Regions from separate parts of the Homo sapiens genome. Here all the other regions are reported to be linked to region 3. Evidence: microRNA targets listed by miRTarBase, many of them from high-throughput screens and not tested one by one. Region 3 holds a microRNA gene; each other region holds the end of a gene's coding sequence.
The links. Region 3 holds the annotated microRNA hsa-miR-449a (UGGCAGUGUAUUGUUAGCUGGU, at 1,690-1,711, shown strand). A microRNA usually pairs through its seed, bases 2 to 8, with sites in the 3' UTR of a target mRNA and lowers its output. Matches are read on the target gene's strand: a 7mer-m8 pairs with bases 2 to 8, a 7mer-A1 pairs with bases 2 to 7 and ends in A, and an 8mer does both.

Region 1 (9,148 bases), not on the chromosome of region 3:
GGTACTGAGGGGAGGACTCAGGGAGAGGAATTTACTGTGATTGTTCTACCTCATTCTCATCATCTTCCTCTCCCACTTCTGATACAGATGGACAGTGGGCAGCCGAAAGAGGAAGCTGGCAGCCAAGGCATACATGCCCCTGCGGGCAAAGCGGTGGGCAGCTGAGCTGGATGGACGCTGCCCCTCGGACAGCAGTGCAGAGGGGGCTTCAGTCCCCGAGCGGCCAGACGAAGGCATTGACAGCCACACATTTGAGAGCATCAGTGAAGATGACTCATCCCTGTCCCACCTCAAGTCATCTATCACCAACTACTTTGGTGCAGCTGGGCGGTTGGCCTGTGGGGAGAAGTACCAGGTGTTGGCTCGGAGGGTCACACCTGAGGGCAAGGTTCAGTACCTGGTGGAGTGGGAAGGGACCACCCCTTACTGACTAGCCCCCGGGGGTGCCAGGGGTCCTGAAAACCAAAGGAGGAGCAGCAGAAGCCATAGGCTCCCCAGCTTTCTCCAGGCTGGGGTGGGAGAAGGAAGCAGGACAGAGCTGCAAGTGCCTGGCAGAATGCCCTGCCTGCCTGCCTGCCAGGCCAAGGCCTGCGTCTCTCTGCTGTACCAGCTCTGTTCCAGGGCCTCCTCAGGCTCGTTACCCCTGTGCCTGTGTCTCTACACACTCCACACCCCCTCAAACTCTGTTTATCTGTTCTCTGACCTTGTGTCCCCTGCGCTGGGACCCTTCCTCCTGAGGCCCAGGTCTTTGTCCCCAGTTGTGTGCCTTGACCTCTCTCGCCCCTTTCTGGGTGTGTTCGCACATCCTGTGTGTGCACAGCTGTCCCTCCACTGGATCCCCTTCACACGTGACCCGTGGGGCAGCCAGTCCTCCCAGGGACTACATAACAGGCACCTTTGAGAGAGCATGGGAGAAGGTGGATAAGAGGATGCTGCTCAGTGCTTTTCTCTTCCACTTTCCTGCCACTCCCCACTACCCTCGGAGAGAGGTGGTGGGATGGGAGAGAGCCCCTGTGAAAGCCTGTGAGGATCTGAAGAGTAAAGGGCTGGGTCTGCCTCAGAAGGCACCAGCACCAGGGCCCAGGTATTAAGGCTGAGAGTGAAGGCTGCCAATGTCAGCTTTGGAGGTCCCAGAAGTCTTCTGTTCTCTGGCCTCACCCCCTCAGTCGCCATAGAGCTGGGCCTGGCCTTGCTGGAATGGAGGCATCCTTCCAAACCTGGGGGACGGGGGTGGGGGGTGGTAGTGGTGGGAGGGAAACCATGTCTTGCTAAACCTGTTTCTGGTGCCTCCCATCCCCAGACCCACCAGACACCACACAGCAGACAATACACACCCACTCGCACAAGCTTCCATCCACATGTGTTGTACTTTCAGCTCTAGGCATGCAGACAACCCCACACGGCCACACCACCACATGCCCAAGTGTACACACACAGAGCCACACCGTCCCTCTGGGCCTGCTGGCTCCTCCCTTGGCTTTCCCTTGGCCCACTTCCAGGGCCCAGGTGCTGCAACTAAATGTGAAAGCTCAGTGGCCGCTCCTTCTTTCAGCCCATCAACCAGCATTGGTCCCATAGGGAAGCACAGGGGACTCACCCTCTTTCATATCCCTTGCCCTGCCCTGAAATGGACAATCACTTTTTGGGATAGGTTGAAATTTTTAAAGAGCCTGCATCATTTGGTTCCCTCAAAGGGAAGCCCTTGCCAGTGGGGGTTTGAAAGAGAATTTTTGGAACCAACATTCAAATTCTGCCTCATCTGGAGGGAAACCAAAATTGGGAGGGGGAAGAGGACCCCTGATGTTTTGCTGCTTCCAGAGATATTAGAAACTGACTCACTTGATTGGAAAATGGACAAAAGTGCCTTGACGTGGAGGGTGGGCACCAGATGGGGACCAGCCTTGCCAACTGCTGCTGTGGCCTCCAGCTTGGCTGGTTTTGCAGGCCGCCAGCAGGAAGGCGAAGGTGGTAGTACAGCAAGAGGCACTGGCGGGGCAGCAGGCCTGCAGGAGCTGTTTTTCCATTGCTAGGCCTGACCCCTCTCTACCTGTGAGCGTTCAGGGGGTCCCTGAGATAGTTTAGATGCCCCCCCATCTTAGACCTCAGCTCCCACAGTGCCTTTTAAGGGGGACCTCACCTCCTGTGCACAGCCCACCCACTTTCCTCTGCTTCCCTGGCACAGCCCAGGCATAGACGAGCTGGCGTTGGACCCAGTTCTTCCCCCTTTTCAGCCCCACAGCTGCTGCCACAGGGGCCAACTAGGGCCAGGTGGAAGGGGAGCTGAGAAGCCAACCCCTAGCCCAGGGGTGCTGTGGGAACTGGGATCCAATTTGTAGCTTCCTGCCTGGCTTCAGAGAGCCCAGCAACCTTCTAGGCCTGCTTTCCAGACTTCTGAGATAGCCTGGGATGAGCAATCCTGTTATAGTACATCTGGACCTTCCCTACCTGGGCTCTGGGGAGGCTGTGGGCCTGGAGAGGGAAAAGGAGGGAGGGGGTGTCTGCACCACCTGGGAAGATAGCACAAGGCCTAATGAGGTCACCCTGACTCCCCACCCCAGCATTTCATTCATACCAGATAATAGCTGCATTACTGCCAACTGACCTTATAACCCTCTGCACCTTCAAAAAGATTCATGGTTTTTAATTGCTGCTTTTAATAACATTTGTTAAAGTTATAATTAATGTGTCTGATTTATGATTTAAAACCTCCCTTTGAACAATCACTTGTCTTCCCTATAGTGAATTAGCTGCTGGGTGGCAGAAGGAATTGGCTCTGGCTTTTGCACTTGGTTTACTGGAGGCTGAGGAGGAATGGCAGGACCCTGTCCTCTGGCCACCTTGCCACTCCTACCACTGCCAGCAACATTCTCACCCTTACTGCCAGAGAGAATATGGAATCTTTTGTGAGTACCCGACCTTTGGGGGCAAAAAACATTAGTTGAGTGCCACTGAGAGGTAAAAGATGGAAAATGAACTTAGAAATTGACACTATTATAATACTTAGATCCGGGCATCGTAAAACTTTATCAGTACATCATCACACAATTCTAGAAATATGAAATGAGTTCTAGACCTGACTCTGCTAGTTCTAACCTGTGCCACTTTAGTCAGATTCCTTTCCTTCAGTTTTATCACCCTTCAAATGGCAGTGATAATCCCAGCACATCTGCTCCCCATGTGTTGGGAGAGACTTTGCTGTGTGTGACTGATTATTACTTCAAAATAAACCTCTAAATTTAGGGCAGTTTGGAGAGGAAAAAAACAGGAGATGTAAAGGGGTAGGAAAAAGGTCATCTATAGAGAGGTAAAGGCCATGGATTCCACTGAATTCTACAGTTTGAGGGGTAAAGTGTAACCTGTAATCCCGAATGAAGGACTCAGTGGTGTTAATATCTGCCCTTAAACGTCTTCATTCACTATGGCTCCCACTTCTTTCTACCACTCCATCAGCTTCAACCTTTTATCTGTCCTCAGAATAAAACCACAATGGGACTTGGGGGTGGTGGTGGTTATTCTCTGGGCTATAATTAATGGAATGGAATGAAAAGTGGCACCAGGTGTCAAAAGACCTGGGTTCTAGTGCAAGGTCTGCAATAAGCAGCTATATGGACCCTCCTAAGATCAGTGGGCCTCCCAGGCTAGAGAGTGCCTGCTTTTCTGTAGTCTAGTGTTTCCAAATTCACAACAAACATTTACCTTCGGAAATTAGGGACAAAGAAGTAGAATTCTCAGAAATCCCCCAAATTATAAGTTATTCTTCAAATACTTCATTCTTTATACTGTTTTCCTCATTATTATAGGTATCTGGAAAAACTTTGTTTGCTAAGTAGACATATTAAGCTTATTTTTACTTACAAAGAACTGTAGCGTACAGAGAATATTTAAAAGACAGGAAGATGCCAGGGAACATATATTGGATAGTGTTCAAATAAATATAACATTTGAATAGCCTAGAGCAAGGTAAACAGAATATAGAATCAATCGTGTCCAGACTGTTAACTTATTTTGCTTCCAAAGTTTATTTCTCGGAACACCATAAGATTTGTATAAAGTATGGTAGGTTGTTTATCAAATCATTTTGTTTGCAAGAACTCACCATTAGCAGCTGATATGGCCAGATATACAGATGTAATGGCATCACAACAACCAAAAATAGGGCTAATGAGATGGTGACCGTTTCTCTCTGCTATGCTCCTGTCTCAGTTCTTGTAGCCTTCAACTCGGTACGTTAATATTTGATGAAGTTGGATTCTTTCAAACTAGTGATGTCTCCATAATGGTAAGTGTTACTATTCACAGAATAATTACAATACTTCTCATTTCCTCAACTGATTTTTCTAGGGATTATGGATTCAAAAAACATACATTTCCTAAGAAATACTGGGAGGGAATTCCCACATGGAAACACTGGTCTGTGTCCTAGCCCTAGCCTCTGCAGCATCATTCTGGGATGACAGTTTGTAATAGTGACCAAAACATGTAAGTTGGAGTTAAGGCAGATCCTAGAGATCAGTGAACTCCTGCAGATCTGTGGTGAGTAGTAAACAATATATATATATATATATATTTTAGACAGAGTCTCGCTTTGTTGCCAGGCTGTAGTGCAGTAGCATGATCTTGGCTCACTGCAACCTCTGCCTCCTGGGTTCAAGCAATTCTCCTGCCTCAGCCTCCCAGGTAGCTGGGACTAGAGGCATGCGCCACCACACCCAGCTAATTTTTGTACTTTTAGTAGAGACGGGGTTTCACCATGTTGGTCAGGATGGTCTCAATCTTTTGACCTAATGATCCGCCTGCCTCGGCCTCCCAAAATGCTGGGATTACAGGTGTGAACCACCGTGCCTGGGAAACAATACATTTTTAAGTGCCAGACCAACTTACCACATAGATGTTTTAAAAACTAACAACTTCATTGTTGGCTACGGCAGCTTCTCTGGATCTACAGCCTACAAAGAACTGACTGAACCTCTGAATGAAAGAGTGAGAGCATTAGGTTTAGAATCAGAGTTGGGTTCACATCCTAACTCTGCAATGTACTTTATGTGTTACATGTTCTTTGGTCTCAGGTTTCATCTGTAAAATGAGGATAACATTGCATTATAAGGATTAAATAATGTTAAGAACCTAGGACAATGCGTGGCAGAAACGGCCCTCTCCCCTCCCATTTCCTATAACAGTCAACCTTGACACCAGGGAAGAGGAAGGCCACCAAGAGCTTTCTGGTAACAGAAAACCACTCAATGAAGGCCACACACAGAACACTCTCCTTTGGAATTCATCTCACTTTAAGAATATTCAAGGAAAAAAGTTGAATTTTGCCAATTCATAAATCAAAAGTGAGTATGTACTGTAGAGAGAGCTTTAGTTATTTAAATACTTAAAACATCAATTTGCCAAACAGGTGCAAGAGATTAAATAGATTCAGACATGCCCCTATCCTCAAGTAGCTTACAAGCTAGGAATACAAAGCTGACTGTGATGCACAAAGATGACAGGAATACCACGAAAGAAGAGATTCCTGCCAACCACGGAAGCCAGGCCATACAAAGGAGCAACAACATTTCACAGGCATTCATGCAGAAGGGCATTCCAGGCAGAGGGGATGGCATGAACATAGCAATAACATCACACAGTATAGTGCAGCCATCCATTTCCCAGCGTGGGAGAGGAGATGGAGGGGATGATGACGGAAAAGGTGAGCTGAAGCAAGGTTATAAAAACCAGAGCTAGAAATTGGACTTTATCCTGGAAGCAATACAGGCAGTCCATCTTGGGTCCCCAGTACATTTTAGGTAGGGTTTACTTTACACAGATTTGCATATATATCAGAACATGATCTGTTGTAAAAAGCAGGGACATCACCATTATCATTCTCTTTGTTCTTCTGAGTCAGTCCCTCAAAATCTCCATTGGAATCCTCTGGAATTTTCCGAAGGCCCCAGCCTAAAGTCCCTACAAGATCTTTGCAAAGGACTCTCAGAGATCCTCTTCCATTTGGTATTTGGGAGCACAAAGATCCAAGTAGTACAGTAGTTATCAGCACTACAGCCTGCACTACCCACTTTCTGGATCTCTGTGCAGTTCAGTTCCCTGAATAATCTATAAAATGAAAACAGGCTCAGAGGAGTGGTTTACAAACCTTTAACAAAGAAAGCTTTTTAAAAATCCCCATGCAGGCAGTCTCCAAGGCACCTATTGTCAACCCCTGGGGCTCTGTGAAGCAAACCTGAAAGACACGGGTCTGTCCGATTCCCGGGGCTGTTTCTGTGCTCAAGTGAAAAGATTAGTTGGGTGGGCTCAGAATCTACATCTTCATGGACAAAGCACCAGAATGATCTGATGTCTGTCATTCAGGCTAGGGAAGAGCCAAGACTTACTCCCAACCCATGAGGCTGTGCCAAAGTCCTAATATTCCCTGAGTCATACACAGGCTCATGGAGCCCATTCCTAGTCCCACCTCCTCAGAATTCAGGACCAACAAAATCCTCTTTAGCAAGGAGAAATAATCCTGCTGATCCACGAAATGCCACAATTAGCAATTTATCCTTTTGCTAAAGCACTTGCGAGTCCCCATAGGAGGAGGCATTCATCCCACACTCTTCCAGGTAAACAAGGTCATGAGGGCCACTCCTCCCCATGAGAAGCAGCAGAGCAATTACATCCTAGGCACCTGAGGCAGGCCTACTGACTCAAGAAGATGGCAAGTCTCATCTTCACTGCTTCTTCCCCTCAGTCTGTACATATAACCATCCTCATGCCCTTGTGCCTGCTTAGCCCCCTTAACCATGAAGCACTCAGAGACAAGTTACACTGTGTTCTTGCTTGGCCTGACTGGCCCAGCCTTTTCTTCCAGCTTTAGGAGCCTCAGACCTTCAGCCTCTACAGGCCATTTAGCTCCTCTGTGCTGACAGGAACATGAAATCCAGAGATGCTGGGAGGTAGAAGGCAGCCTCCTCTTCCCCAGAGTGCAGCTGATGGAGGCTGGAGGCAGCCGCTGGAGGTAGCCAGCAGCATGCACAAAAAGCTTTCCCCACTCAGTCCTCTTCCATGCCTTCCTGAAGCCACTTTAAATACTGCACATCTCCTTAATCCACAGGGAGACTGAAGATCTCTGGGATTTCAAAAGGATGTACAGCCTTTGGAGAGAAAGCAAAGCCCTATAAGTGACTATGATTAGAATCAACTCGTGATAAAACCCAACTGGCCAGCCTCAAGGGAGGCCCTCTGCAACCTGCCGCACCCCACCTGTCCAGGCCCACGGCCTGTCACTCCCTAGCCTATGTTTCCCATCTGTCAATAAGTGGCCAGTTAGGCCAGATAGCTTTAGAGTCTCACAGACATGGGTTCAAATTCTAACTTTGCCCCTACTAGCTGTCTGACTATGGACAAGTCACTTAGTTTTCTTTAAATGCTCCTATTTTTAAAAAAAAAAAAAAGGCCCTACATGACTGGACTGCTGAGGATTAATTAACACAAGGTATACAAAGCACTTACCCAGTATACCAGCTGGCACTGTATGCATTCATTACATGTGAGCTACTCTTTTTATTATTATCCTATACACATCACTTCCCAAAACAATCCCCCCTCCCCCAGTATCTCTGTATTCTTTTGCCCACCTAGATTCCACCTGCTCCTGCTGATCAATCAAAAGCCTATTCTTGCTTAAAAAAAAAAAAACTTCTCTGTCCCTCAAGGTCCAATTCAACCACTGACCTTTCCCAAGGGATCTTCCCTGACAAACAAGGTCTACAGGAATCTATCTTCCTCTCCTGTGTCTTTCGCCTGGCCCTTGTCACACAGTGCAAGTTCTCTTCACTTTCTAGACTGAAGGAACATGAGGACTTGGGCCTCAGTGTCCCATCTGTCAAATGAGGATTATAATCCTCTGCCTCCTTTCTGCTGAATGAGGTGTTTTAAAGTTCCCGTAACATGCTTAATAAATCACAGCATATGTATACATTCACATGTTGCTTCAAATGTATGCTTAAATATTCTGTACGTTGGGTGCCTGAGGATAATGAATTTTGTTAACTTATGTGTTTTTATAAGCAGACATACAGAATTCAAAGACATTTTTAACACATTAGGAATAAGAGCTGAGACTGATAAAGCATTTCATGTACAGGTTTCACATATTAATTTCCATATGCATAACAACCCATTAGTATAATCCCAATTTTACAGAAGGGGCAACTGAGGCACATAAAATATTCATATTTTCCAAGCACTATGGAACAGTGGCAGGTGGGGAGCCAGGTTTCAAGGTAGGAGGTCCAACTCTCTTAACCCTGAAGCTGTCCCTCACCAGTTAAATTTTAATTTCTCCACAGTACTGGCTCTACCAATGGTTCCTTACTCTCTCACCTCTGCTGAGGTGGTATCATGAGGGCCTCCTCTAGAGCTAGTTTGAGACCCAGGGGAACGGTGTATTCACAGAATCTTAGTTCCCTAAGGAGTAAAGAAAAGGTTTCATCATCCATATAGGTGGTTTGCATCTCTGGCCCTACGTTAGAGTCAACCTCAGAAGGTTCAGGTGACCACGTTAGAGTCATCTAAAAAGAAAGGTGCTTTTTAGTACCACTATACTTGATCCCCGCCCTGGCCAAATTAAGTCGAAATCTGTGAGGTGGGGCCTAAATTGGTAGTTTGAAAAATGTTTCCAAGTGATGCTAATACATAGCAGCCAGCGGTGAGAAACACTGGTTTAGACCAGTGCTTCTCAAGATTTAATGTGCACAGAAATCCCCTGGGGGTCTTGTTAAACTATAATTTGATTCGGTAGGTCTGGGGTGAGCAGGAGATTCTACAGTTCTTGAAAGCTCCCAGGTGATGCCAATTCCAAAAATTCCACTTCTGAATGATAAAGGTTTATACTAGAGGTTCTCAAAGTGAAGGTCCACTGACCCATGGGGATCTCCAGGACTCTAGGGGGTCCATGGGGTCAAAACTACTTTCATAACAATATTATTTTATTATTTATCCTTTTACTATGTTGACATTTGCACTAATGGTTAAAAAAAAAAAAAAGAAAAGAAAAGAAAAAACAAACAACAGGCTGGGTGTGGTGGCTCATGCCTATATCCCAGCACTGTAGGAGGGCGAGGCAGGTGGATCACTTGAGTCCAGGAGTTGAAGACCAGCCTGG
Region 2 (10,746 bases), not on the chromosome of region 3:
TTGCTGTCCATTGTTTTTAGGAAATTACTGTTTCAACCTTACGACAAAGAGCTTTGAGGCTGTGAAATAGAACAGATTTCCAAATTACTTCTTTACAAGGATCTAGGCTCCCTTTTGCTTATCCCCTTGGATCCTTTGCCAGGTTGGGCCAAATAATTTAAGTAATGAATTTATTTTAAATCACAGGAGTCTTACTTTTTTGTGTATCAGATAACAAAACCCTACACAATGTATAGTGCTCTAAGAGGAAGGGATTGAAGGAGGCTTTCAATGAGAGAATTATTTTTCCTCTGCCTCTCAATGTTTGACTTAAAACTCTTTATTTCTTGTCTGTCTTTCATAAGATTTTTTAGCTCTGTTTTAAAAAACAAAAAGGAACACCTAAGACCTGTGAACAATGACCCGCCCCAGATTAGCTAGAGTTCATATCTTCAGAGAAGACAGATATTATAAAATGTTCTGTTAGGAACCCATTTCAGAAGAGTCTATGCCAAGTTATTTAACAGAAATTCTAGAGTGTTCAATGTGTGTTATGTTTTTAATTTCAATGAAGACCATGTTATCTATTTACAAGGATCTAGGCTCCCCTGTGCAAAGGACCCAACCTGGCAAAGGACTTTCAAAAGAGTCAGTTTGAAAAGTAATACCCTTATTCAATGAGGCTGTTGGCCACATAGAGAATTTATTTATTTTTTATTTTAATTAATACCTAATGGGGTACATGAGATGTTTTGATACAGGCATGCAATGCATAATAATCTCATCATGGAGAATGGGGTATCCATCCCCTCAAGCATTTATCCTTTGCATTACAAACAATCCAGTTATGCTCTTTTAGTTATTTTATTATTATTATTATTAATTTTAGACAGAGTCTCGCTCTGTCGCCAGGCTGGAGTGCAGTGGCGCAATCTCAGCTCACTGCAACCTCTGCCTCCCGGGTTCAAGCAATTCTCCTGCCTCAGGCTCCCGAGTAGCTGGGACTACAGGTGCATGCCACCACGCCCAGCTAATTTGTGTATTTTTAGTAGAGACAGGGTTTCACCATGTTGGCCTGGATGGTCTCGATCTCTTGGCCTCGTGATCCACCTGCCTCGTCCTCCCAAAGTGCTGGGATTACAGGCATGAGCCACCATACCCGGCTCTTTTAGTTATTTTTAAATGTACAATTAAATTATTATTGGCTATAGTCACCCTGTTGTGCTATCAAATAATAGGTCTTATTCATTTTTCAATTTTTTTTGTACCTATGAACCATCCCCACCTGTCCCCAATCCCCCACTACCCTTCTTAGCCTCTACATAGAGAATTTTTCAAATTCCTTCTTTAGAATTGCTACTGAAGGCTTCAGAAGGTACCTCAAATATCCTAAAAATTGGGAAGTCTATGTCCTTTCAGATGAGTCTGATTTTGGAAATAGCCATTTGGAACTGTATTTAGTAAATTATATACCTATTCAAATTTGTTGACAAAAATTTTAGTCAAAAGCAAGATTATAAAAGAAAATGTGAGGGCAAATCTTCATGACCTTGGATTTGGCAATGGCTTCTTTAATATGACACCAAAAGACAGGCAATAAGAAGAAAACAGATAAAATGGTCTCCATTACAATTAAAAACTTCTATATGTCAACCTTGGATTTGGCAATTTTTTTTAATGTGACACCAAAAGTCAGGCAATATGAGAAAAATGGATAAAATAGTCTTCATTAAAATTAAAAACTTTTATGCATCAAAGAACACTATCAACAGAGTGAAAAGACAGCCTGTGGAATGGAAGAAAATATTTGTAAATTATATACCTGATATATGTGCAGATTATCTAAAATATGTAAATAACTCCTTCAACTCAACAATAAAAACAAACAAAAGCAAACAAAAAAAAACCCCACTTCAAAAATGGGCAAAGGACTTGAATAGACATTTCTCTAAAGAAGATATACAAACAAACAGCATTTGTTGGACACATGCTTGTCAAAAAGCACATGAAAAGGTCATTAGAAATTAGGGAAACCATTAGCATCAGCATCACTACAGGAGTCATTAGGGAAATGCAAATCAAAACCACAGTGAGATACCACTCCACACTTACTGGGATGGCTACAATTTTAAAAAGGGAGGAAAATAACAATCGTAGGAGAGAATTCGAAGAAATTGGAACCTTCACACATTGCTGGTAGGAATGTAAAATGGTGCAAACACTGTGGAAAATAATTTGGCAGTTCTTCAAAACATTAAACTTAGAATTACCGCATGACCCAGCAATTCTGCTCCTAGGCATATACCCAAAATAAGTGGAAACAGGGACTCAGATACTAGAATGCAAATGTTCATTATAATAAGCAAAAGATGGAAACAACCCAAGTGTCTCTCCAAGGATGAAAGGATAAACAAATTGCGTTCTATCTATACAATGGAATGTTATTCAACCTTAAAAGGAATGAAGTTCTGGGCCAGGCATGGTGGCTCACACCTGTAATACCAGCACTTTGGGAGGCCGAGGCAGGTGGATCACCTGAGGTCGGGAATTCGAGACCAGCCTGACCAACATGGAGAAACCCCATCTCTACTAAAAATACAAAATTAGCCAGGCATGGTGGTGCATGCCTGTAATCTCAGCTACTCAGGAGGCTGAGGCAGGAGAATCACTTGAACCCGGGAGGTAGAGGTTGTAGTGAGCCAAGATTGCGCCATTGCACTCCAGCCTGGACAACAAGAGCAAAACTCCATCTCAAAAAAAAAAAAAAAGGAATGAAGCTCTGATACACACTACAACATGGAAGAACCTTGAAAACATGCTTAGTGAAATAAGCTAGACAAAAAAAGGACAAATATTGTATGATTCCACCTACATGAAGTACTGAGAATAGGCAAATTCATAAAGATAGAACATGGATTAGAGGTTCTATCTAATCGATGGGGTAAGTAGGGTGGGGTAAGGAAAGGAAAGGAATTGGGAGTTATTGTTTAATGGATATCAAGTTTTTGTATAGACTCATGAAAGGATTTTTAAAACAGTGGTGATGGTTGCACAACACTGTAAATATAATTAATGCCACTGAAGTGTACACTTAAAAATAGTTAAAATTGTACACTCTATATATAACATTTTCATGCTATTCAGCAATGAATATAAAATATATTTTGTTATTAAGCATTAGTATAAAATTAAGCATATTTTAGTTGTATATATTTTACCACAATAAAAAATTTAAAATTTACAAGGGTTAAAATTATATTTAGACTGGGTGCAGTGGCTCGTGCCATAATCCCAGCACTTTGGGATGCCAAGGCAGAAGGATCTCTTGATGCCGAGACCAGTCTGGGTACATGGTGAGAACCTGTCTCTACAAAAAATAAAAATAAATTTTAAAAATTTGTAAATTATACTTAAGAAATCTGGCAGCCCTTCCTTTCCTTTTCTGGACAAATGCATTGTTGAAATAGTAAAATGGAAATGGATTTTGTATCAAATTAAACTTTATGTCAATATTTTAAAACTTACAAAACAAGATTATTAGAAAGTGGTTAGACAGCTCTTCCATGCCTCCTTCTGAGGGTAAAGCCCTTTTCTGGTGTATCAAGAAATAAAAGAGGGAAAATGGATAGATTCTGCTGTTCAAAAGAATGTAGAACTCAGAGTTAACAATTGAATTTGGTCCAATCGCATGGTTCACATCTGATGAAAGGAAATTTGATAGCTTGTGCTTCGTCAACTCATGTTGACATTAACACCTAGAGTTGGTAAGTGTTTCCAAATATTGTCAGGAACCCTTCTTCTCTTCTAATACTTGGATATGCAGTTGCTTCCTTAGGTGCTACCAGAGTTGTACAGGTAATGTGGGTCCTCGCCGGGATCCCTTCTAAGCTACTGCAAATGATGGCTCATGTGCGACCCCGGTTCTCTTCCAGAGCACAGGAAGCTTGGAAACATGACTGTGACGGTGAAGAAGACTGTCCCCTCTCCTGAGGCTGTGCAGATCCTCTACCAGCGGATGAGATACGAGTACGAGTTTTACCACTACGTCAAAGAGCAGTTCCACCTGCTGAAGCGCAAGTTTGGACTTAAGTCTCACGTCAGCAAGCCCCCCCTGAGGCCACACTTCTTTATCCCAACTCCACTGGAAACCGAGGAGCCAATCGACGATGAAGAACAGGATGATGAAAAGTGGCTGGAAGATATTTATAAGAGGTGATGTGACTGTGTTGCCTCTATGGCTTTATCTCCCTTTTCCAGAAAGTTCTTTGTTTGGGGAAGTAAAATCCTTAAGGGACTAAATTAATGCTTGGGTGCATTAAAAAGAACAAAACATTCCCACATGTTGGGGTCATTGGGAGATGCCCGGTTTTGCGGGTTTTATTTGTTTAATTTTATTCTGTGTTTTCTCTTGGCTCTTTGGGTCTTTCCCGGGTACACTAGATGGCTCCATCCCAAGGCATCTTGTCATAAAACAGCTTTCCCCCACCCCATATCATGGGAAAAGGGGGAGAAATATAGCCCCTAGCCTAATAACTTATCATTTGTAAAATGACTTATAAAAATATTACCTCAATGGTAGGAGACATCCAGACTTGTATATTTCAGTGGAAATACAAAACCACTTCAGAGACCAGGGTATCTCCTCTGGAAGGATCTAAGAGAAGGTAAGACAGATTAGGACATCGAAAAGGAGGATGGAGCCAGGTGCCATGGCTTGAGCCTATAATCCGAGGCTGAGGTGGGAGGATCACTTGAGCCCAGGAGTTTGAGGTTGCAGTGAGCTGTGATCACACCACTGCACTCCAGCCTGGGTGACAGAGTGAGACTCTGTCTCAATTAATTTTTTTTTTTTAAAGGAGGAGGATCTCCATGGGTAAGTGGTTTCTACCCGCATGGGTAGAGTTCTGCCTCTGGTCCTTCTCAGGGGGCACTTTCACCAAGAGCAGTGTAATTATCTCTGAAAGAGCAAGTCAGCTTGTGCCGCATCCCCAACCAATCCACAGCCTGGAGTACCTTTCAAGGTCAAAGTGCATGGCCAGCTCCATTGAGACATTCCATTTCAAAGCACCGTGCTGACAGATATCAAAGTACTCTAGCAGGGAAAATAATTTGTTTGCTGTGTAAGGAAGAATGTAGACAAGACAGATAAATCTGAAGGTCATGTGGCATCAGGGAAAGGGCATGGCTGTGTCTTTTGCACCCAATATGAAACATCTTCTCCCAACACTGCTTTAATGGAAGTTCTAGGAACCAATTTAGCTCAGGCATTTGACTCCTACAGCAGAAGTTCTGAGCCTGACCACAGATGGTGTGTAATCTATCAAACACACCCCTGGCCAAGTTGGGTCCTATAGGACCTGGTACTATGTACTATTGTAACTTCTAGTTCCCTAAGAGGTACCTGTTTTCAGTAAAAAGGGGTCCTGAGTTCTGTGCAGGTGGAAGAGCTACCCGAGAACTACCTGAGTTCTGTGCAGGTAGAGTCCCATTTCTTATGGGACCTGTGTGCTCCTGAGAACTCTTACTTGAGACATCAAAAAGAAGCAGCAAGAGCTTCTGGGACAGAGACTGCTTGGCCAGCTTTGTAAGTAAGTGGCTGCCTCCAATGTGATGTGAGTACATGTTGGGCAGTCTCACTGTCCTAAGGTATGTCTTCTTTCCACCTCCCACTGCCCCTCCCCTGCCACCTATCAATGATGCCTTGGTTCAGTCATTAGAAATCTGTTGCTTTGAGTTCTGAAATATTTTCACCTTAAAAAAAATGCTGAAAATACACATTCTCCTGGGAAGACGATAAACAGCTAGCTAAGAAGCCGAGGTTCAGTGGTGGCAGCAGGAAGGACACTGCCACAAATTTTGTCTATTTCATATTTGTCCCCTAGAGCCAGCCCTAGCAAATGTGTGAGTTGGGAGTAGTTAATAGTAAATAAGACTCTGACTTTACACAAGCTACACATTTTATACTTTTCATAAACCACAAAGTCTCTCTAGAATTTTTTCTGCCTTCACTAAAATTGGACTGTAGCCAAGATATAAAGCAAGTCATTTGGAACCTGCCGAGTGAGCACTGAAGCTACTTTATCATGAGATGTGTGTTAAGAAGGCTGCAGCCCACAGGAGTCCAGGGAAGGCGGGGACCACAGAGGCACAGAGTCCAGCACTTGGCCGCTCATGGGCCTTCTTTCTGCCTCAGAGGACGGGGGCAGAGAAGTGATGAAGGGAAATGTTCTTAGAGGAGGAAATATCCTTTGTCCTGTTCAGAGAGACCAGGGCCCTACCATTAGGCATACTTTCAGAAGCAACCTGGAGAACAGCTATCAATCATATTCAAAACCAGTACAAGAACTGCTGCCTGGTACCCTGTGAGTCATTTCTATGAAATTCCATATAAAGAATGATGATAAGTTTACACACTGTGCAATCTCACAATCTGAAAATAAAGTTGAGTTGGCTGTGTTTTCTCTGCTCTTGTCAGAACATTGGGACAATTGGTCGTTCAAAAACATTCATCCTCTTACTGCAAGTTTATCTGGGTACTTTTACCTGTGTGTTCAAAGGCATTTCTTTTCAGCAGTGATCATTATAACTTCACAAAAAAAGATGCTGACGGATTTACTTACAGGGCCTTAATGTTATTTTGTCCCAGCCAACACCCTCTAGGTCCTAAAAGTCAAGGTACTTCAGTTTATTTGGCAAACATGACAACATTTTTTTTGGCCCTGGGCCCAACAGTTTGTACTTCATGAAACATATTGTACATTTTACATAGTTTAATTTAAAAAATACCTTTTAAGCTAGTTGATCTTTGACTGTCTTATTTATTATAACCTTTCAGCACATTCCAAGGTTTTAGTTACTCAGGAAGGAGTTAATTAAAATGATTTTATTTTGGTCTGATGGATGTTTTTTAAAAGGAAAATTATTATTATGAACCTTCAGCCTACTTTCTTGAGTGCCGTAAAAGTGCTTGTAAATCTTTTTTTTTTTTTAAGAAGAAAGAAAAAAATGGTGTTTGACGTTGATGGAAATTCAAAAATATATATGGAACTGAAACATTAACTTAGCTAAAATAAAAGCAATCTGTGTTTGAGATGAAGCATTCCTTAACTTATTCATCACCCATATAAATAAATAAATATAAATAAGTTGACATATTTCTTCCATCCTGTTGACAGCTGGAAATAAAAGTGCCTGCAGTTCCTCCCCTCAGCCTTCTTAATTGGCCAAGCTTTTTTCCTCAAGATGGGATTTTGAAAAGCTGTATTTTAAAAAGTGTATCAATTTTCATTCGTGTAATTATATGACAGCAAAAAAAAGGGGGCTGATAAAATGAACTAGTCATTTACTCATGTTGTTGCATATTTTAAAAAGCAAACAGGTGATTTTATCAGTATTTCCACGGTTGGTTTCATGTCGGGGTGCTACATCTGAATCATCTGTCTCTGTTATCCAGCATCTACGGGGCATGTCTACCGTCAGATAGGAAAGGAAGGATGTGCCCCAATTCTCAGTGTCTACGATGATCTGTTTCTCAGACATGCAGCACTTCAAAACCTGGACCACTCTAAGCTCTCAAGTGAGTAGTCTTGATCTGGAAACACCGTTCTTGGGAAATTTCACTGCTGTGGTCAAATGGAGCTTACAAAGAGAAACAAACTATGCTCCCTGTGTGTCTGATGCTACATTCCAATTACATGTGACTGTTATATAAAAGAATCAGAATGCTGATACGAAAGGAAAGAAAAATCCACTTTGGTAATGGTATGCTTTATTTCAAGTAAGAATATGAGAATCTTAAACAGCAGGTGATAAGTGGTGACCTTTGTTCATCATTTTGTTTGTCCTTCTGTAACTCAATCAAATGATGTTTGACTCAATCAACTTTAGAGCCAAAAATACTCAAGAAAAACTGGACCGTGCCATATCTGGGGTTGCTTGTGTGGTCTGAAGTTCTTTATACATGTGCCATCACCTGCGGGTTTATCCAATGAGCTATTTGGCCTTTAATGAATTTTATAGATAATGACAGTATTTCTTAAAAGGCAGGATGACAGCCGAGCGCGGTGGCTTATGCCTGTAATCCCAGCACTTTGGGAGGCCGAGGCGTGCGGATCACGAGGTCCAGAGATTGAGACAGTCCTGGCTAACACAGTGAAACCCCGTCTCTACTAAAAATACAAAAAATTAGCTGGGTGTGGTGGCATGCGCCTGCAGTCCCAGTCACTCAGTAGGCTGAGGCAGGAGAATCACTTGAACCTGGAAGGCAGAGGTTGCAGTGAGCCGAGATCATGCCACTGTACTCCAGCCTGGGTGACAGAGCGAGACTCCGTCAAAAAAAAAAAAAAAGAAACAAAAAAAAAGCAGGATGACAATCCATAGCTATTAAGAAAAATAGCCCTCTGGGTCAAAATTGTGAAACCCCCTTCAAGTAAAGATAAAGAGGAGTTATTTTACTAACACGGCTTATTTCACATCAGATGATAAAGAAATCTGTAAAAAATAAACAAACATAATGTTTTAAATATCCTGCTACAGAAAAGTCTTTTTTGGGCTAAAACCAAAAATCCAAGTCTGTTAAGAAAAACACACAGAACTTCTTTCACAGCCCAGCACATTCATTGTGATATCATGTGGTGTTAGTCGGCTAGGCCTACCGTAACAAAGTGCTGCGGACTGGTTGCCTTAAACAACAGAAGTGTATTGTCCCATAGTTCTGGAGGCTGGAAGTCCGAGATTGAAGTGCTGGCAGGGTTGGTTCCTCCTGAGGCCTCTCTCCTGGGCTTGCAGAGGGCACCTTATCCCTGCATCCTCCCGTGTCCTTCCCCCGTGCCTGTCTGTGTCTTGATCTCTTCTTCTAAGGACCGCAATCATATTGGATTAGGGCTCACTCTAATGACCTCATTTTAACTTAATGACTTCGTTTAAGACCCTAATATGGTTTGGCTGTGTCCCCACCCAAATCTCATATTGAATTGTAGTTCCCATAATCCCCACATGTGAAAGGGACCCGGTGATGGATAATTGAATCATGGGGGTGGTTACCCCCATGCTATTGTTCTCGTGATAGTGAGTTCTCATGACATCTGATGGTTTTATAAGGGGCTTTTCCCCTTTTGCTGGGCGCTTCTTCTTGCTGCTGCCACCATGTGAAGAAGGACATGTTTGCTTCCCCTTCTGCCATTATTGTAAGTTTCCTGAGGCCTCTCCAACCATGCTGAACAGTGAATCAATCAAACCTCTTTCCTTTATTAATTATCCAGTCTTGGGTATGTCTTAATATTAGCAGTGTGAAAACAGACTAATACAGATCCTATTTCCAAAAATGCTCACATTCTGAGATACTTGGTTAAGACTTTCATATATGAATTTGTGGGGGACACACAATTCAGCCCATAACACCCAGACTATAGCAGAAAAGTTAGGGCAGAGGAACTGAATTCCTACTAGGAGAGAAGCAAGCCTCAAAGTGCAGATTCCTATAGTTGCATTGGGGCTCTGGAGCAGTGATCTGGTCCATTCCCTCATTTTACAGACAAGGAAAACCAAGGTCCAAAGAGGAGACACAAATATGTCACATGCTAACTTTGCCCATTGAGGGTTCCCTTAACTTTTGAAGCAGCTACCAAATTAAAACTTTAAAAAGATGATATAGCCAAAGCCCATCTACAGACCTAGGATCCAGAATGAAAGTGATGAGGCACTTTCAGCCACACCCACTGCCACCTGCTGTACTGGAGCAGCCTCACCATAGGGCTCTCCTGGGAGCCGGGGCTTTGGAACTCGCCTTTCCACAGAGGGAGGGGAGGCCCTATTGGTTTTCAGTCACTGAAGTCCTCAGAGACAAATCCCAAATAAATATTTTATTTTTAATTTTTCTGTCTGCTCAAAAGACACAGAGAGGTTCTTGTTCCTTGGTAAACAGACTTGGAGCATGTTTGCCCATCTCAGATTACAGAGTTTTATTTCTCTTAAAGGCAAAATGAAGATTCTTGTCCTACTTCCTGTAACGAGTTTCAGATGGACCCACCTCCAAAAATATAGTCAAAATGCAGTTCATAAAACTAGGGGAAGTCAAGTACAGACATGTCCCAGGAAAGCAGAACCAGAGGAGAAGCAGACCCCGGGCACTCGCAGGACTATTTGACTCACTGGAGAATTCCCTTCTGCCAGGGCAGGCTTGGCTCACTGCTCCAAGCACTGCAGATTCCCAAGGAACACCCAGGCCCACAGATGTTCATGGGTCACAGAATTGTGAACTGACCACTTGTGCATTTTGGATTTCAACTTGTAAACATGGGGATTCCCTTTTTACAAAAAGAAAAAGGAGAGGATGAAAAATCACCATGCAAAGGAAAGTTGAGAGCTAAGTTTTTCCTTTTGGAATCTTGGCATGCGCATTTAGCTATCTTCAATCTGGCTTTCACCAGACGCTGTGTGCTTTGAGCAGGGGTGGAGCAGTCTGCCCTGTGCCGCTCTGCCAGAACATTCAGACTTGACCTGTCACAGGCCTCTTATTCCAGTCAGGAGCAGACACGGCCCAGGAGATGGGCCCTGCCAGACACAGCAGGCTGCCTTTGAGGTGCAACCAGAGAGGCAGTAAAAACCTGGGAGGAGAGCATTTGACTGACTAGGCTGGGGGCTGCCCACCAGTCAAGTCCCCGAGTTCAAGTCCCAGCTGTTCTGTTTCACTGGGCATCAGTGTAAATCATTTGACCTCCATCGGTCTGAAATCGACTCAGCTGGAAAACATTAGAAAGAAAATAAAAC
Region 3 (5,000 bases):
TGCTAGTTGCACTCCTCTCTGTTGCATTCAGAAGCACGCCCCCCAAAGAAATGGAAATGGTGCCATCTTGTGGACAATGTGGAGAAGTGGCATAAACCATGGTTCTTAACGTGAGCAATTTAAAGTTGATCCAATGTAGTACCTGTTCTCCTTGAAAGACCAAACCCAAAGGTCTTTAGTGTCTCCTGTAATCAGTGTAAAAGGAAACAAATTTAAATGGTTTTATAAACGTGTTTCATAAAGAGCCTTCATCTGCTTTAAATCTCTGTCACCATTTACCATGCTTCTCTCTAGGCTCAATAGTTCATCTTCCTTTGACCTGTACGCAGAGATTCTAGTTCCAAATCCACCACCATTTTAATAGATTTTTCTAGATCTTATATAAATTTTGCAACTAGGCACTGTGGCTCATGCCTGTAATCCCGGCACTTTGGGATGCTGAGGCAGGAGGATCACTTGAGGCCAAGACTTCAAGACCAGCCTGGACAACACAGGGAGACCTTGTCTTTATAAAAAAACTGCAAAAATTAGCTGGGCATGATGACATGTGCCTGTAGTCCCAGCTACTTGGGAGCCTGAGGCAGGAGGATTGCTTGAGCCCAGGCGTTCAAGGCTGCAGTGAGCTATGATTGCACAACTGCACTCCAGCCTGGAGGACAGAGCCAGACCCTGCCTCTTAAAAAAAAAAATTCAGTATTCAAGTGGTAACATCCTATATTGAATACATAATTGCATTTTCAGAACTCGATTACTAATGTCATTTCTAGTAGGAGAAAACTAATTGCATTTAAGCCCTTACATTTCTTAAATACTTTAATGTTGATTTTTTCCCCCAAACACTGCTGCAGTTTTGTGTCGTGCACAGCTTATGTATTATCACGACTCCTAGATATTTTACTGTCTAATACAGACAAGTAGTCTTTGGATCAGTAAACAGAAGTGATTTGAAAAGCTATAGTTAAGTAACTTTTTATTTATTTTTTTGAGACAGAGTCTCACTTTGTTGCCCAGGTTGGAGTGCAGTGGTGCAATCTCGGCTCACTGCAAACTCCAGCTCCCGGGTTCAAGTGATTCTCATGTCTCAGCCTCCTGAGTAGCTGGGATTACAGGCAGCACCACCACGCTGGGCTAATTTTTGTATTTTTAATAGAGACGGGGTTTCACCATGTTGGCCAGGCTGGTCTTGAACTTGTGACCTTAGGGGATCAGCCAACCTTGGCCTCCCAAAGTGCTGGCATTACAGGCATAAGCCACTGCGCCCAGCCTACAGTTAAGTAACTTTTAAAATTCATTTGTACTGTAGAACATATTTTTATCCAAGCATTTAATTTGGAAAACCTAAATGTAAGTATTCTGAAAGTTTTAAAGTTTTTGTTTAACTTTTATGTTTTTGACTAGATTCAAGCAAATATTGATTTTATTTCTTATAGTCTTGAAGTAATACATTTTGTGTATAAGTTTTCTTTAATGTGACTATTAAGATTAGAGTTCTGCCACTATGTTTCATGTTACAAATTTAGCCTCAGTGACTGCCTGGGCCACGAGAATCGGCAGTGACCTGAATCAGGTAGGCAGTGTATTGTTAGCTGGCTGCTTGGGTCAAGTCAGCAGCCACAACTACCCTGCCACTTGCTTCTGGATAAATTCTTCTTGTCAATGAAGTGCTCTGGATACCTGTGTGTGATGAGCTGGCAGTGTATTGTTAGCTGGTTGAATATGTGAATGGCATCGGCTAACATGCAACTGCTGTCTTATTGCATATACAATGAACATCAGAGTGTAACTGAATCTGTAATTAGTGTGTGTTTATGTGTACTTTCTGCTATGAAGCAAGCCACTATTTACCATAATATATTATTGCCATTAGCTTATAATACAGTAATACTTACAATGCACAGTTTTATAATGGTAAGGAAAGTATTACAATTACTTAAATTTTTTCCTTTTAAGAAAAATTTACTTATGCCTGCTTTTCCATAACTAAAAATTTTTAAGAAATATTTTTGGAGTCTTTGGAGTCTTTCGGAGTAGACAGTGTTTAAGTATTTATGAAATTACATGTTTTTAACTATAAGGTTTAGAATGTAATAACAATGTGGAATGGACCTACAATGTGTCCCCAGATTTTCAGTGAAGTCTTTAGGATTCTTTCTGCATTATTAGTTTCTTTCTTTTTTTTTTTTGAGACGGAGTCTCGCTTTGTCGCCCAGGCTGGAGTACAGTGGCGCGATCTCGGCTCACTGCAAGCTCCGCCTCCCGGGTTCACGCCATTCTCCTGCCTCAGCCTCTGGAGTAGCTGGGACTACAGGCGCCTGCTACCATGCCCGGCTAATTTTTTTGTATTTTTAGTAGAGACGGGGTTTCACCGTGTTAGCTGGGATGGTCTCGATCTCCTGACCTCGTGATCCACCCGCCTCGGCCTCCCAAAGTGCTGGGATTACAGGCGTGAGCCACTGCGCCCGGCCTCTGCATCATTAGTTTCTAAATACAGCATTAGAATTGGTTTCTATAGCCATGACTGTGTGTGTACCAACTGAAGGGAAAGTTGAGGTAATTTTCCAGATGAGTCAGTCAACTAAAACATTTTTCACTTGAAATATCAAGAATATTGGGGATTTTTTTTGGGTGGGGGATGGTTTACATTTTTTTGGAAGATCTACCTCAATCCTTTCACTTCATTTTCTGTAAAATCACAGGTTCATGAAATATTTGGAAGACAGCATGAGATCTAACAACTTGTGAAGTGGGAAGAACTGACCATACAATATGACCTTAAATATATTCTCATTACCTTGGAGGCATTTTGACCCACGAAGTAGCATAGATATGTGCTGGCTTCCAGACATGCAGTATTCTTGTGCGGACATTTGCAGCCAGTCAGTGGAACTGACTTTGGTGGTGCCATCAGTTAGTTAAGCCATAGATGAGATATAAGAAATATTTCGCATTCTCTACTGTACTGGATTATAAGTTATTGGTAAAATAATTTTTATGCTTTCCTTATTTAAACATATTTCTAGAACATGGGTTAAATAGATATCTATAATTTGATTCTTACGCATTTTACTACTTTCAAATCACATCCTCTTTTTGATGTTGCCCAGTGTTATTCACTTTCAGGAGATTTATGTTTAAGTATATCTTCCATGTAAATATTATTTTCATCTTGTCTTTTTTTAAGGTTAAATTTCAACATGTTATTTTCTATAAAGAATCACTGACCTAGTGATAAAAATAAAACCTACTAAATTTAGAAGCTTTGGCTTTTGTGTGTTAGTTTTTTTAAATTAAAGAGCAAGATATAAAATGCCAACTTTATTTTATTTTAGATCCAGGGGGTACATGTGCAGGTTTGTTACATAAATATAATAGGCGATGCTGGGGTTTGGGCTTCTAGTGAACCTATCACCCAAATAGTGAACATTGTACCCAATAGATAGTTTTTCAGTCCTTGTATTCCTTCCTTCTACCCCTTCTGGAGTCCCCAGTGTCTACTGTTTCCATCTTCATGTCCATGTGTACCCATTGTTTAGCTCCCACTTAGAAGTGAGGAACATGCCGTAATTGATTTTCTGTTTCTGAAAATGCCAACTTAAATTTTTTTAAGTTTTCTTTTTTAGAACTTTTGATTCTGTAGGGAAACCAACTTTATATTCAATAAACAGAAGACATTTAAAGTTGTGGTTTAGTCTCATATTATCGAGATGATGAGAAAAGAGGGAAGGAATGGAATGAAATAAAAATATGTTAAAGAAATAAAAAATATGTTAAAGAGATGAATGGGTTAGGAGGAAAGTGAAGATACAAATTAAAAGAGAAAATGTTTCCATAGGTGGGAGAGGGAAAGAAAGGGATACACACTGGGATGTCAAGGGTCAAGCAGAGGGAAAAGGGATGGTAAAAAGAGGAGGGAGGTTCTGCTGATGGCAAAGTATTTTCTCCCAGGTGTTTTCTCTTGGGGCAGTCTCTTGGCTGTTCACTGGTGCTGGGAATGTCACTACTTCCCATCGCTGCCCTCTGAACCTGTCACTATTATAGTGATAGCTTCCTAATTTCTCTCTCTCTGCTGCTTTTTATTCCCCTGCACTGCTCTGCAAGAGACAGCCTTAACAGTTCAGCTGGATGAGGGGAAGGGAAGAGTGGGAAGGAGTGTGGTGGATTAGTTTCTAGGCCTAACAATTATTAGAATTTTATTTGATGGGAAAGATAAAATCAAGCAGAGGACTAAATATGGATAGAGTGTCCTCATATCAGCTCCACCCAAACATGTCATTTTTCTTTCAAAGGAACACCACAAATCAATGTGGTGCAATCATGGCTCACTACAGCCTCTACCTCCTGGGCTTAAGCAATCCTCTCACCTCAGCCTCCTGAGTAGCTGGAACCACAGGTGTGTGCTACCGCACCTGGCTAATTTAAAAATTTTTTTTGTAGAGATGGGGTCTCGCTCTGTTGCCCAGCCTGGAGTTCAGTGGAGCCATGTCGGCTCACTGCAGCCTTGACCTCTTTGGGCTCAAGCAATCCTTCCACCTCAGCCTCCTATGTAGCTGGGACCTGAGGCATGTGCCACTACACCCAGCTAATTTTTTGATTTTTTTTGTGGAGACAGGGTTTTGCCATGTTGCCCCAGGCTGGTCTCTAACTCCTGGGCTCAAGTGATCCTCCCACCTCAGCTGCTTAAAGTGCTGATATTACAGGCCTGAGCCATCATGCCCATCACCAATTATCACATTTTTAGAAATTTTGCATCCTAGTTACTAAACCAGTGGTAGATTGAAATTGACCATGAGGGAGCATGAGCATTTACATTGAGCTGGCAAATGCTGTATGTCAGGATTCCTCCTCCAGAGTCTGCTATTAAACATGTACCAGCCACCATTATATATATGCTAGATACACTGCAGTTATTAAGAATTATATATATGTACACGTATATATACTATTGATACAGTGTAATTGTTAAACATTTAAAAAAATGAAATACAACTTTCAGGGCACAT

Region 1: the mRNA of PHF19 is a reported target of hsa-miR-449a. Seed matches in the 3' UTR shown: 7mer-A1 at 2,590-2,596.
Region 2: miRTarBase lists UST as a target of hsa-miR-449a. Seed matches in the 3' UTR shown: 7mer-m8 at 5,647-5,653 and 8mer at 5,822-5,829.

What each region holds. Positions count from the first base shown.
Region 1 is chr9:120,849,226-120,858,373 of GRCh38, reverse strand. It overlaps PHF19 (PHD finger protein 19), which reads left to right. Exons shown (of 15, transcript NM_015651.3): 15 at 88-2,723. The coding sequence ends at 430. It also overlaps the pseudogene CUTALP. Among named protein-coding and RNA genes, the nearest start is that of PSMD5, 11 kb to the right of the region's middle. RefSeq lists enhancers at 1,638-2,137, 2,138-2,639.
Region 2 is chr6:149,069,922-149,080,667 of GRCh38, forward strand. UST (uronyl 2-sulfotransferase) reads left to right here. Exons shown (of 8, transcript NM_005715.3): 8 at 3,912-7,069. The coding sequence ends at 4,195. Among named protein-coding and RNA genes, the nearest start is that of UST-AS2, 43 kb to the left of the region's middle. RefSeq lists enhancers at 3,224-4,423, 10,052-10,171.
Region 3 is chr5:55,167,297-55,172,296 of GRCh38, reverse strand. It overlaps MIR449A (microRNA 449a), which reads left to right and starts at 1,675; the gene lies at 1,675-1,765. All of the region lies in intron 2 of CDC20B (cell division cycle 20B), which reads left to right. GPX8 (glutathione peroxidase 8 (putative)) reads right to left here. Exons shown (of 3, transcript NM_001008397.4): 3 at 5,000. It overlaps MIR449B (microRNA 449b), which reads left to right and starts at 1,555; the gene lies at 1,555-1,651. It also overlaps MIR449C.